Linked DNA regions of Homo sapiens: region 2 is linked to region 1. A link means that fine-mapping ties the variant in region 1 to the expression of a gene that starts in the linked region. Tissue or cell type: esophagus mucosa. Region 1 holds a variant in brackets; the other region holds the start of a gene. All regions are shown on one strand. Distances are between the middles of the regions.

What was found. PIP is the estimated chance that this variant, and not a neighbour inherited with it, causes the effect. A credible set is the group of variants that fine-mapping cannot tell apart.
Region 2: ZNF343 starts here. The variant in region 1 is the best candidate, but not a certain one, in a credible set for the expression of ZNF343 in esophagus mucosa (GTEx, PIP 0.68).

The regions. Positions count from the first base shown.
Region 1 is chr20:2,555,848-2,561,220 of GRCh38, reverse strand. It overlaps TMC2 (transmembrane channel like 2), which reads right to left. Exons shown (of 20, transcript NM_080751.3): 3 at 2,447-2,765. Among named protein-coding and RNA genes, the nearest start is that of TMC2, 22 kb to the right of the region's middle. RefSeq lists an enhancer at 2,472-3,182. The variant G/A (reference allele first, on the strand shown) is at 2,998.
Region 2 is chr20:2,506,366-2,511,738 of GRCh38, reverse strand. ZNF343 (zinc finger protein 343) reads left to right here and starts at 2,824. Exons shown (of 6, transcript NM_024325.6): 1 at 2,824-2,858. RefSeq lists enhancers at 1,403-1,998, 2,540-2,849, 3,500-3,559.

The DNA.
Region 1 (5,373 bases):
TTGTATCTGCATTGACAACAGTAGTTTGTCTTTTTGTAGAAGAACTGTTTTGGCTTCAAAGTCAAATCAAATCAGTTTCAAAACTACATCTGTCCAAATTAAGTAAATTCACCAACTCTTATGTCAACTCAGTGGCATTAACACTGAGTTACAATTAAATGAGGAATTCAGTTGCTCAGTCACACTGGCCACATTTCAAGTGCTCAGCAGCCACATGCAGCTAGTGGCTGTCATATTGGACAGCAGGGCTGTGGAGAATTTCCAGCTGGGGAGCTCCCCATCTCCCAGATAATACTATGTGCTCAGTTGTCACAAAATCCAAGTGTCTGTGTGTGCTCCCTACAGCCTCCAGCCTATTCTGACTCCATTTTTTTTTTTTTTTTTGAGATGGAGTCTTGCTCTGTGGCCCAGGCTGGAGTGCAGTGGCGCAATCTCGGCTCACTGCAAGCTCCACCTCCTGGGTTCACGCCATTCTCCCACCTTAGCCTCCGGAGTAGCTGGCACTACAGGCACCCGCCACCACGCCTGGCTAATTTTTTGTATTTTTAGTAGAAATGGGGTTTCACCATGTTAGCCAGGATGATCTCGATCTCCTGACCTCGCGATCCACCCACCTCGGCCTCCCAAAGTGCTGGGATTACAGGCGTGAGCCACCACGCCCGGCCTCTGACTCCTTTAGTGATGAAAAATAGTGACTCTCAGCTGAGTGAGACAGCGCCCAATCGGGTAGGTAAAGGAAAGGACTAAGGAAGGGTTATGGCTGGGCAGCCTGAGTGTGTTTCATAAATGGTAGTATTAGGGTGTGGGCTTGGGTTACTGCAGGTTTTAGAGACAGGTTTGCAGCAGCCTCTGGGTGTTTTAGCTTCTGATTAACTCCTGGGGAGCAAAGAAGAAGTTTTAGGATGCCCTTGAAGGTTGAAAAGCCTAGAACACAGAGATATTTTTTTTTTTTTTGCCATACTTCATGCACACCCAATTGATGATATCTGCCTTTGAGTCTCTGCGTAGGGTGTTCCCACAGTTTGGGGTGTTGGACATTCAGTCATTGCTTATTTAGATTCCACCTGTTATTCAAAGCCTCACTGGGATGTTCACCTTCTCCATGGAGGAACCCTGATGGCCCAGCACCCGGGGAATTCAGCGCTCCATCAAGTCCTGTCTTGCATGCATATTGCTTTCTGCCTTGTCTTAGGATTACCAATGCCTATGTGTTATCTCCTCTGCCACACTGTCAGTATCTAGGCAACGGGAACTGAATGTTTTCATCTCTCTAATGCCTTGGCATGGCCCTCAGCTGAAAATGACATAAATGAGTCTGTGGCCCATTGGGATGGTACAGGCTCCCTCTAAAGTTCAGGGCACCCAGGGCCCATCAACGGTGCATTCACGTTATTTTTAAATGGCCAAGGGCACGATGCACCCTTTACCTCTTTAGTTCATGTCTGGGAGCAACCAGACAGTAGACAAAGGCTGTAACCAAGCCAGGATGGTTGGCATGGCGACAGGAAAAAAATCAGTGCCCTTGTTTAAAAGCCTCTCTGTAAAGGTGGAGAGGAAGATGGAGCACCCAACTGAGGCTGTGGGCAAAAAGGATTTGCTACAAACCACCGGGAAAGAACATCAACTCTTCACCATAATCCTAATATTCCCAACTGTTGCAAAAGAATTCCTATTCTATCACAAAGAATTCTTAAAACAATATGAGCAACGAATAAGGCATCTGTTATCCTCAATGACTGAAAAAGGGAGGCAAAGAGAGAGACACCTATTAAAATTGATAACAAAAACATGAACCCCAAATCTTCACTTTCTGATGCCATAAGCTGGCCCTGTCCACTAACCCACACGTGCTAGTTGGTGCCAATGGTAATGGAACAAAGGAGGCAAAACAAATAAAACCTCCAAGCTCCAGAATTTCAGAGCTGGTAGCATCCTTGAAGGTCTCCTGGACCAGTGCCACATTTCCAGCAGAGGAAACTGGCCCAGATCCGGAAGCCGGAACGAGGTGTGCTTAAGCCCTCAGATGGTTCCTGAGTCCGATTTTGTTCATGTCGCTCAGCTCCTCCTCTTCGAGAGCCGGGGTGAGTCACCAGCTGGAGTTCAGGGGACGCGGGATCGTGTCCCACCCGCTGCCCTGTCACCTCTCCACCCGCGCCCCGCCACCTCTCCACCCGCGCCCCGCCTCACCGGGTGCCACGAGGCGCTGGAGTGGAGAGCCCGCGGCCACTCCCCCGCGCGGACCCGCGATCTTCATCCCGGTTCTGGGATGAAGAACCCACCGCAGAGTGGGGCAGTGGTAAGGGCTGGGAGGCACGGAAGCCAGAGCGAGGGCACGGGCTGCCTCTCCCCGGGGAGGGGGGCATCAGTCCCTCACGGGGGAAGGGGAAGGGCCGCGAAGGAGCGGGAGCGCGCGGAGCGAATGCCCAGAATCGGAGCCACAACACACCTGGGTTTCTTCTGCCGCTTCGACTTCTCCTCCCTCCTCGGAATCTCCTTTTCCCTCTTTGGGGCTGCTGTCCGCTCCTGGAAGGAGGCCCTCTCGTCGCGCTTTCTCCTGCCCTCGCAGGTCCTCTCTGCCTCGCCCCGCTCCTGCTCCCCCAGCTCTTCTCTGTGTCTCCTGCGCCCTGTTTGCTTCCTCCGGGGAGACCCCGGGCTTGGGCTGCCCCCGGCGCGCTCCTTCTGGCTTCGCTGAGCTCCGCGCCTGCCTGGGGTCCCCTCGGCTTTGAGAGCCCGCTTGCTTGAGGATCTCCTTCCCAGCCTGTCACCTGCCGGGGCGGGAAAATGGACAGTTCTGGTTCCAACGGCCTCAGGCCCAGGAAAATGTCCCCGGCCGTGAGAAATCAGACGTCCAAGATGATTCCGAGAGCTTGTGAGCTCTGCGGGGCTCAGAACAGGACACCCCAAAGTATGGCACCTTGGCATGTTGAGTATTTTAAGCTGAAGGAAACTAAGAAAACTGCAGAAGCAGGAAGGTCACTCTCTGGCCTTCTCCCTCCC[G/A]TCTCCCTTGAAGACCTCCTGTGACAGGTGTCCTGCCCTATACCCAAGGAAAGGAAAGTCACACAGAGAGGCCAAGAGGAATCGGAACAAACAGGCCTTGCTACTTCCCCCTGGTTGATTACCATGACATCATACCCTTTTGTCCTCCGATCATACTTCTGCACAACTCTCCATAAAAATACAGTTTTCCCTGTATATTTGGGTCTTCGTTTCTGAAGGCTCTTGTGTTCCCTAAAACTTACATTAAATAAAATTGGATGCGTTTATCTTGTTAATCTGTCTTTTGTTATTGGGGTCTCATCCACAAACCTTGCAATGGCTAAGGAAAGAAATCTCTTCTCCCTCTAGGTCCAAAGGCCACCTATTCTGAAAGCTTCTGGTCTGGGTGAGAATGACTGCCTTGGTGGGGGCGCACTTTCATCAGTTTTACCTCCAGGAGCCCTACCAAATTTTCACTGTGAGGTCAGGAGTTGGAGACCAGACTGGCCAAGGTGGTGAAACCCCATCTGTACTAAAAATACAAAAATTAGCTGGGCGTGGTGGTGCATGTCTGTAATTCCAGCTACTTGGAAGGCTAAGGCAAGAGAATCGCTTGAACCCGGGAGGTGGAGGTTGCAGTGAGCTGAGATCACACCAGTGCACTCCAGCCTAAGCGACAAGAGCGAGACTCCATCTGAAGAAAACAAAATAAAATAAAAATAACTGATTAATATGTTAACAGATCTAATGGATAAAATGGACAACATGCAAGAACAGATGAGTAATGTAATCAAAGAGATTGAAACTCTAAGAAACAATAAAAAAGAAATGGTAAAAACCAAAAACACTATAATAGAAGTAAAGAACACCTTTGATGGGCTCATTAGTAGACTGGTCACAGTCAAGGAAAGAGTCAGTGGGCGGAGGATATGTCAATAGAAACTTCCCAAACTGAAAGCAAAAAGAAAAGAAATTTCAGAGATGGAACAAAATATCCCCAAACTGTGGGACAATTTCAAAAGGAGTAACATATGTGTAATGGGAATGCCAGAAGGCAAACAGAGAAAGGAACAGAAGAAATATTTGAATTAATAATTGCTAAGAATTTTCTAATATTAATGACAAACACCAAACCACACATCGAGAAAGCCCAGAGAACATCAAGCAGGATAAATGCCAAAAATCTCCACCTAGGCATATCGTATTCACACTGCAGAAAACCAAAGACAAAGATAAAATCTTGAAAAAAGCTGGAGGAAAAAACTCACCTTACCTGTTGGTATAAAGATAAGAATTACACTAGATTTTGCTCCAGAAACTGTGCAAGTTAAGAGAGTAGAGTGATATATTTAAAGTGCTGACGGAAAAAAAAAAAAGGACAGAATTCTGTATCCATCAAAAGTATTCTTCAAAAGTGAGGAAGATAGACTTTCTCAGACAAACAAAAACGGAGATAATTTGTTGTCAGTAGACCTGCCTTGCAAAAAAAGTTTTATTTTATTTTCATTTAGAAACAGGGACTCTGTTGCCTAGGCTGGAGTGCAGTGGTGCCATCATAGCTCACTATAACCTTGCACTGCTGGGCTCAAGTGATCCTCCTGCCTCAGCCTCCCAGCTAATTAAAAAACAATTTTTTTTTAAAGATGGAGTATCACTATCTTGCCCAGGCTGATCTCAAACTCCTGGCCTCAAGAGATTCTCCTGCCTTAGGCTACCAAAGTGCTGGGATTATAGGCATGAGCCACCCTGTCCAGCCCCTCAAAATGTTAAAGGAGGTTCTTCAGAGGGAAGGAAAACGACATAGGTCAGAAACTTGGATTTACATAAAGGAAGAGCATTCAAGAAGCAATAAATAAAGAAAAAATAGGCCAAACCTGGTGGCTCACGCCTGTAATCCCAGCACTTTGGGAGGCTGAGGTGGGTGGATCATGAAGTCAGGAGTTCGAGACCAGCCTGGCCAACATGGTGAAACCCCGTCTCTATTAAAAATTAGCCAGGCATGATGGCACGTGCCTGTAATCCCAGCTACTGGGAAGGCTGAGGCAGGAGAATCACTTGACGCTAGGAGGTGGAGGTTGCAGTGAGACGAGATCGCACCACTGCACTCCAGCCTGGGTGACAGAGCAAGGCTCCGTCTCAAAAAAAATAAAAATAAAAAATAAAAAATAAAATCCTTCTTTTTAAATTCCTAACTGACCTAAAAGATAAGGGTTTGTTTAGGATAACAATAGCAACAATATGTTGGATAATCATAGCTTATGGATAAGCTAAATGAATTACAGCAATGTCAAAGAGATGGGAGGGAGACATTGGGAATACCCTTTTATAAAGTACCTGCGCTACCCATGAAGAGATATAGTGTTATTTAAAAGTGGACTTGAATTAGTTAGAAATGCA
Region 2 (5,373 bases), 49 kb after region 1:
GGAGGAAAGCAGGGCGAGGGGCAAGTAAAACATTGCAAAATTTTCCTAATTTTCTCTTTTATGAATAGACTTCATTTTTAGATGAATTTTATGTCCATAGCAAAATTAAACAGAAGGGACAGAGATTTCCCATTGATGTCACCTCTGTCCTTGTATTTTTAATTCAACTGTTCCATAGATTTTATTCACGTGATGAATAACAGTCACATGGAGCACAGAGGGATGCTGAGGGAGGGCTCCAGATCAAGGGCTGGATTTGAAACTGTCCCAATTGTCCCACAGAATTGATGTTTATGGTTTCTTTGAATAAACAGAAATTGGTCCTTCCAGGCCAGGTGCGGTGGCTCATGCCTGTAATTCCAGCACTTTGGGAAGCTGAGGTGGGAGAATCACCTGAGCCTAGGAGTTTAAGATCAGCCTGGGCAACATGGTGAAACCCCATCTCTACAAAAAATTAAAAAATATTGCCAGGTGTGGTGGCATGTGCCTGTAGTCCCAACTACTCGGGGCTGAGGTGGAAGACTCACTTGAGCCCAGGAGGTTGAGGCTACATGAGCGGTGATCATGCCACCGCACTCTAGCCTGAATGACAGAGCAAGTCCCTGTCCAAAAAAAAAAAAAGAAAGGAAAAGGAAAGAAAAGAAATGGATTCCCCCAGTCTTAAAACTTGAGAAGGTCACATTTGTCCTGAGTTCCTTTCTCAGGAAAACCAAACATCAGGCCTCCCAGATAGTATCAAGGAGCTGCAACTTACCAAATCATTGCATGTGGACAATGAGAACCCACACTCCTCATCAGTCATATTGCCTAACCAATCACCTCCTTCCTGTTCCAACTTACCTCTCCCTAATTTCTGTTTTCCCACACATAGTTACATTTCTTCCCTGCTATACAAACCCCTGATTTTGGTCAGTCAGGGAGATGGATGTGAGACTGATCTCCCATCTTCTTGGCTGCAGCACTCAATTAAGGCCTTCTTCCCTTGCAATACTCGTCTCAGTGATTGGTTTTCTGACTGGCAACCAGCAGGACCTAGACCCAACCCCTGGTGTTTCAGTAACAGATTCTGCCCAGTACTAACACGGCAGCCTCCAAGACAAGAGAAGGGAATTGGTCCTTTCTGTGAAAGGCAGGACAGAATATCAAGAAATGTTTGTCTGTCTCCTGGCTCACAACGGCCTTGGGGCCATGTTCTCTATCTCCTGAGTACTGGAGAACAGAGAAGCCTCAGAAGGCTGATATTGGGAAGGTGAAAAGAAATAAGAAGATGGAAGGAGGTGTTGGAGAAAATAAAAACAAAATCTCCTGCTAACCCAGAAAATCCCCTTCACAAACGTAGAAAAGAAGGAGAACAGTTTTATTACCAAATAATATTGAACTGGACTGGGAAGCACATTGTAGACAATCTGCTAATCAGATGCCAGACAGAAAGAGATCTTACTTTTTATCTAGTTGGGCAGATACAATCTATTACAAACATGTCCTCAAAATTAATGGTAATTTGCCCCCTTGTAAGAGGATTTGACATTGTTTGCTATACAATTTTTCATAATTCATTCTAAATTCACCTGGTAATTGGAGTAGCCATCTACACTAGTTAATTGCCTTTATCAAAAAGAAAAAATAAAACTTTTATCTGTGACAAGCGGGCAGTTACGAGTTTGGAGCTAGGCACCTAAGCTAAACTCCCAAGGTGACAGGGAGATAAGGGCACTATCTTCTTCACTGTTTACATTTCAAAGAGATGGCTCATCAGGCCTTTGGGGGAAACATTCCTCTTTTGTAAAGTTGGCAGGTGCTTATTCAGCCTTTCAAAAGTATCAGGTACATATCAAAGGAGCACTTATACATAGATTTCTCATGGAAATACTCCAAGGGCGTGAGGTCAGGTTTATTTCCCCTTCAGTAACAAGTAAAATTTAATTCAATTTGTATTTGCCATTAAGATTTAAACGCGCCTCCTATGAGCTGAAGGTCTGATCTGCAAACCCCTAATTGCCGTGTTGCAGAAGGTACCAGCGTAGCCCAGTTTTAAAAATATTATTAGTTTTAAAATATATACATTTAACTCCTGGGCTCAAGCCATCCTCCAGCCTCAGCCTCAGCCTCCCTCGGGGTTACAGGAATCCCAGGCGCGCGCCACCACGCCCGGCTCTAGTAGCCCAGATCTGAACCGGGATCTTAGATAAGAGGCCAGAGAGCCAGACTCCAGCCTGAGTGAAGCTTCCACCCTCCAGAAACTGGATGAGAGTCTGTCCCTAACTTTGAGGACTTCGACAAGAAAGGTGACTACAGGCCACCCACAGGAGTGCACTGGTGTTGAGGGTAAGGGTTCAACTGAGACGCTGGGAGGCGGCTTTGCCCTGCCTGTGTGTCACAGGCAACACGAAGTCGAATCTACATAGTGCTCACGCAAGGTAGTTCGCGTGCTATGGAGCCTCAGCCCAGGGAATTCAGGTGGTCCGGTGCAGTAAACTCTGTACCCAACACACGCCTGACAGACAGCGCATTGCTCCCGCTAGATTCGCCAATCGGAAATGACTTCTCTCGTTGACCCCAGCTTCCGGAAGCGCCTGCGGAAGCTGCCGCAGAGGCTTGTGGGGAGTGTAGTCTTTTTTTTGCAGAATGGGCCAAGGGGACAGAGACTTCACTCGGGAGCCAGAACCTGTTTTCAACATGGGTATTTTAAGAAGAGACGGAGAGGCTGTCACTGCAGTGGTCACTGTCCTGGAAAAGTAACCGTTGCACGGCCCAGAAGTGGCTCTGTGGCGGCCAATGGGAGCCGAAGCCTGCGAGGATGTTGGGAATTGTAGTTCTGGCGTCGGTCGGTGGCCGAGATCCCGGGCACGCTGGCTCTGGTGAGCGCGGCCTCCGCGGCTCCTTGGCCCCAGGATGCCCTCTCTCGTGGGGAAAGGAGGGTCGGGAAAGGCCGAGCGTAGGTTAGGACGCGGGGTAGAGTGTGGCCAATGGGGAGTGCGGGTTGGAGATATTTGGTTTTTGGAGGAGAGGGCGCAGCTCGCGGTGCTCATTGGGGCGAGGCGATGGGGTGAGCCCCTGCTTGCCCGGACCTCCGCGGACCTTTTTTCCCCCCGGGGGGACGAGAGTGACCTAGAACTCTAATGCCTGTCTTGAACCAGGCGGGATTATTCTGGGTCAACCAGTTTTCGAATACGGAGGGCGGCCCCAGTCGTGCGTCCTGGGGTTTATTTGGGCTGTGGGGTTGAGTTCTGCCAGGGCCAAATGGACCAACATCCCCGCGGCTGGGGTGGGGACGTGGCTAGGTCCGCACATCCCTGGGTGGTTTTTGGCTGGGGAGCGTCTTGAGTCCTGCATCACCGAGTTTTTCTGTTTTTTGGGTGGGGCTGGATATGTCCCGAGTGGTGACCGGGGTGGTTAGGGGGAGGCCGTCTCAGGCCTTGATGCTTGATGGACCTTGGTTTATTAGGGGTTGGGGGGTTGGAAGTGGAGGTGAGCTTGACGTGGTCAAAATATCCTGAGAGGGCCTGGGCGAGTGTCTTGGGTCAGGAGTCCCTGGGGTTTTTAGGGAGGTGAGGGAGGTTTCGTCCTCTGATAGTGGTGGGCTGTATCACTCTGACAGGCATCTAGGCAGCTCTTTTGAATGGGGGCAGGTCTTTTCTCTGGGACCTGTTGTCTCAAGGTGTGTCATGTGGGAGGTGCCCCCTGTGCTTTGTGGCAAAGTTCCTGGGTTTGGTCGTCATCTGGGTGGCCCGTCTGGCTGACTCCTTTCCTGGACTGCTTTTCCCTCACATGTTAGGGCCAAACATCTGGTTTGGGGCTGTGAAGGGTTAGGTCTGGTGGGGAACTCTGACGGCTTCTAGTTAACAATCCAAATCACTTCCGGCATATGGTGAGTTCTGGATATCAGGCGTTTAATTTTATTTTTAATTTTTTCGTAGGGACAAATTTTAAACCTACCTAGTAGAGCTATTCAGTGAACTGCCACGGACCTGTCACCAGATTCCACATTTGTTAACTCATGGCCAATTTTGTTTCATCTACATCCCCTCAACCCTATGTGTGGATACACTTTGAGAATTGTCAGACCCCACAGGGATTGGCCATTGCTGACATCATTACTGGCCCAGCTGGCTAAGCGTGTGGCGCTCCACAGCTAGACTTCAAATCTAGGCACTTTCTAGCATTGTCAATTTGAGGAAGGTGTAGAACTCATGGAGCTTTGGGGAGGTAAAACTTGCATGGTGTCTGGAATTGCCTCTGGTATACAGTAAGAGTTTAGTAAGTGTTAACTATTACTAATAGTATTATAATTTGAGGCCCATAGGCATTAAAGGGATAAATATGTAATAGCAGCTTGTCAGGGCAGACTGTATTCTGATGTCCCCACATGGTTCTGTCCCCTAGAAGCTGTTTACATTATTCTCTTCTCTGACAGATCTGAGGCTTATTTTGTTAAAGGAAAAGGAGGCCTGCTCTTTTTTTTTTTTTTTTTTTTGAGACACAGTTTCACTCTTGTTGCCCAGGCTGGAGTGCAGTGGCGCGATCTCGGCTCACCGCAACCTCCACCTCCCGGGTTCAAGCGATTCTTCTGTCTCAGCATCCCGAGTAGCTGGGATTACAGGTGTGCGCCACCATGCCCAGCTAATTTTGTATTTTTAGTAGACACGGGGTTTCTCCATGTTGGTCAGGCTGGTCTCGAACTCCTGACCTCAGGTGATCTGCCTGCCCCGGGCCTCCCAAAGTGCTGGGATTACAGGCATGAGCCACCGCTCCCGGCTGGCCCACTCATTTTATTTTTTTATCTTTTTTTTTTTATTATACTTTAAGTTCTAGGGTACATGTGCGCAACGTGCAGGTTAGTTACGTATGTATACATGTTCCATGTTGGTGTGCTGCACCCAGTAACTCATCATTTAACATTAGGTATATCTCCAAATGCTATCCCTCCCCGCTCCCCTCACCCCACAACAGGCCCCGGGGTGTGATGTTCCCCTTCCTGTGTCCATGTGTTCTCATTGTTCAATTCCCACCTATGAGTGAGAACATGTGGTGTTTGGTTTTTTGTCCTTGTGATAGTTTGCTGAGAATGATATTTTCCAGCTTCATCCATGTCCCTACAAAGGACATGAACTCATCATTTTTTATGGCTGCATAGTATTCCGTGGTGTACATGTGCCACATTTTCTTAATCCAGTCTATCATTGTTGGACATTTGGGTTGGTTCCAAGTCTTTGCTATTGTGAATAGTGCCGCAATAAACATACGTGTGCATGTGTCTTTATAGCAGCATGATTTATAATCCTTTGGGTATATACCCAGTAATGGGATGGCTGGGTCAAATGGTATTTCTAGTTCTAGATCCCTGAGGAATCGCCACACTGACTTCTACAATGG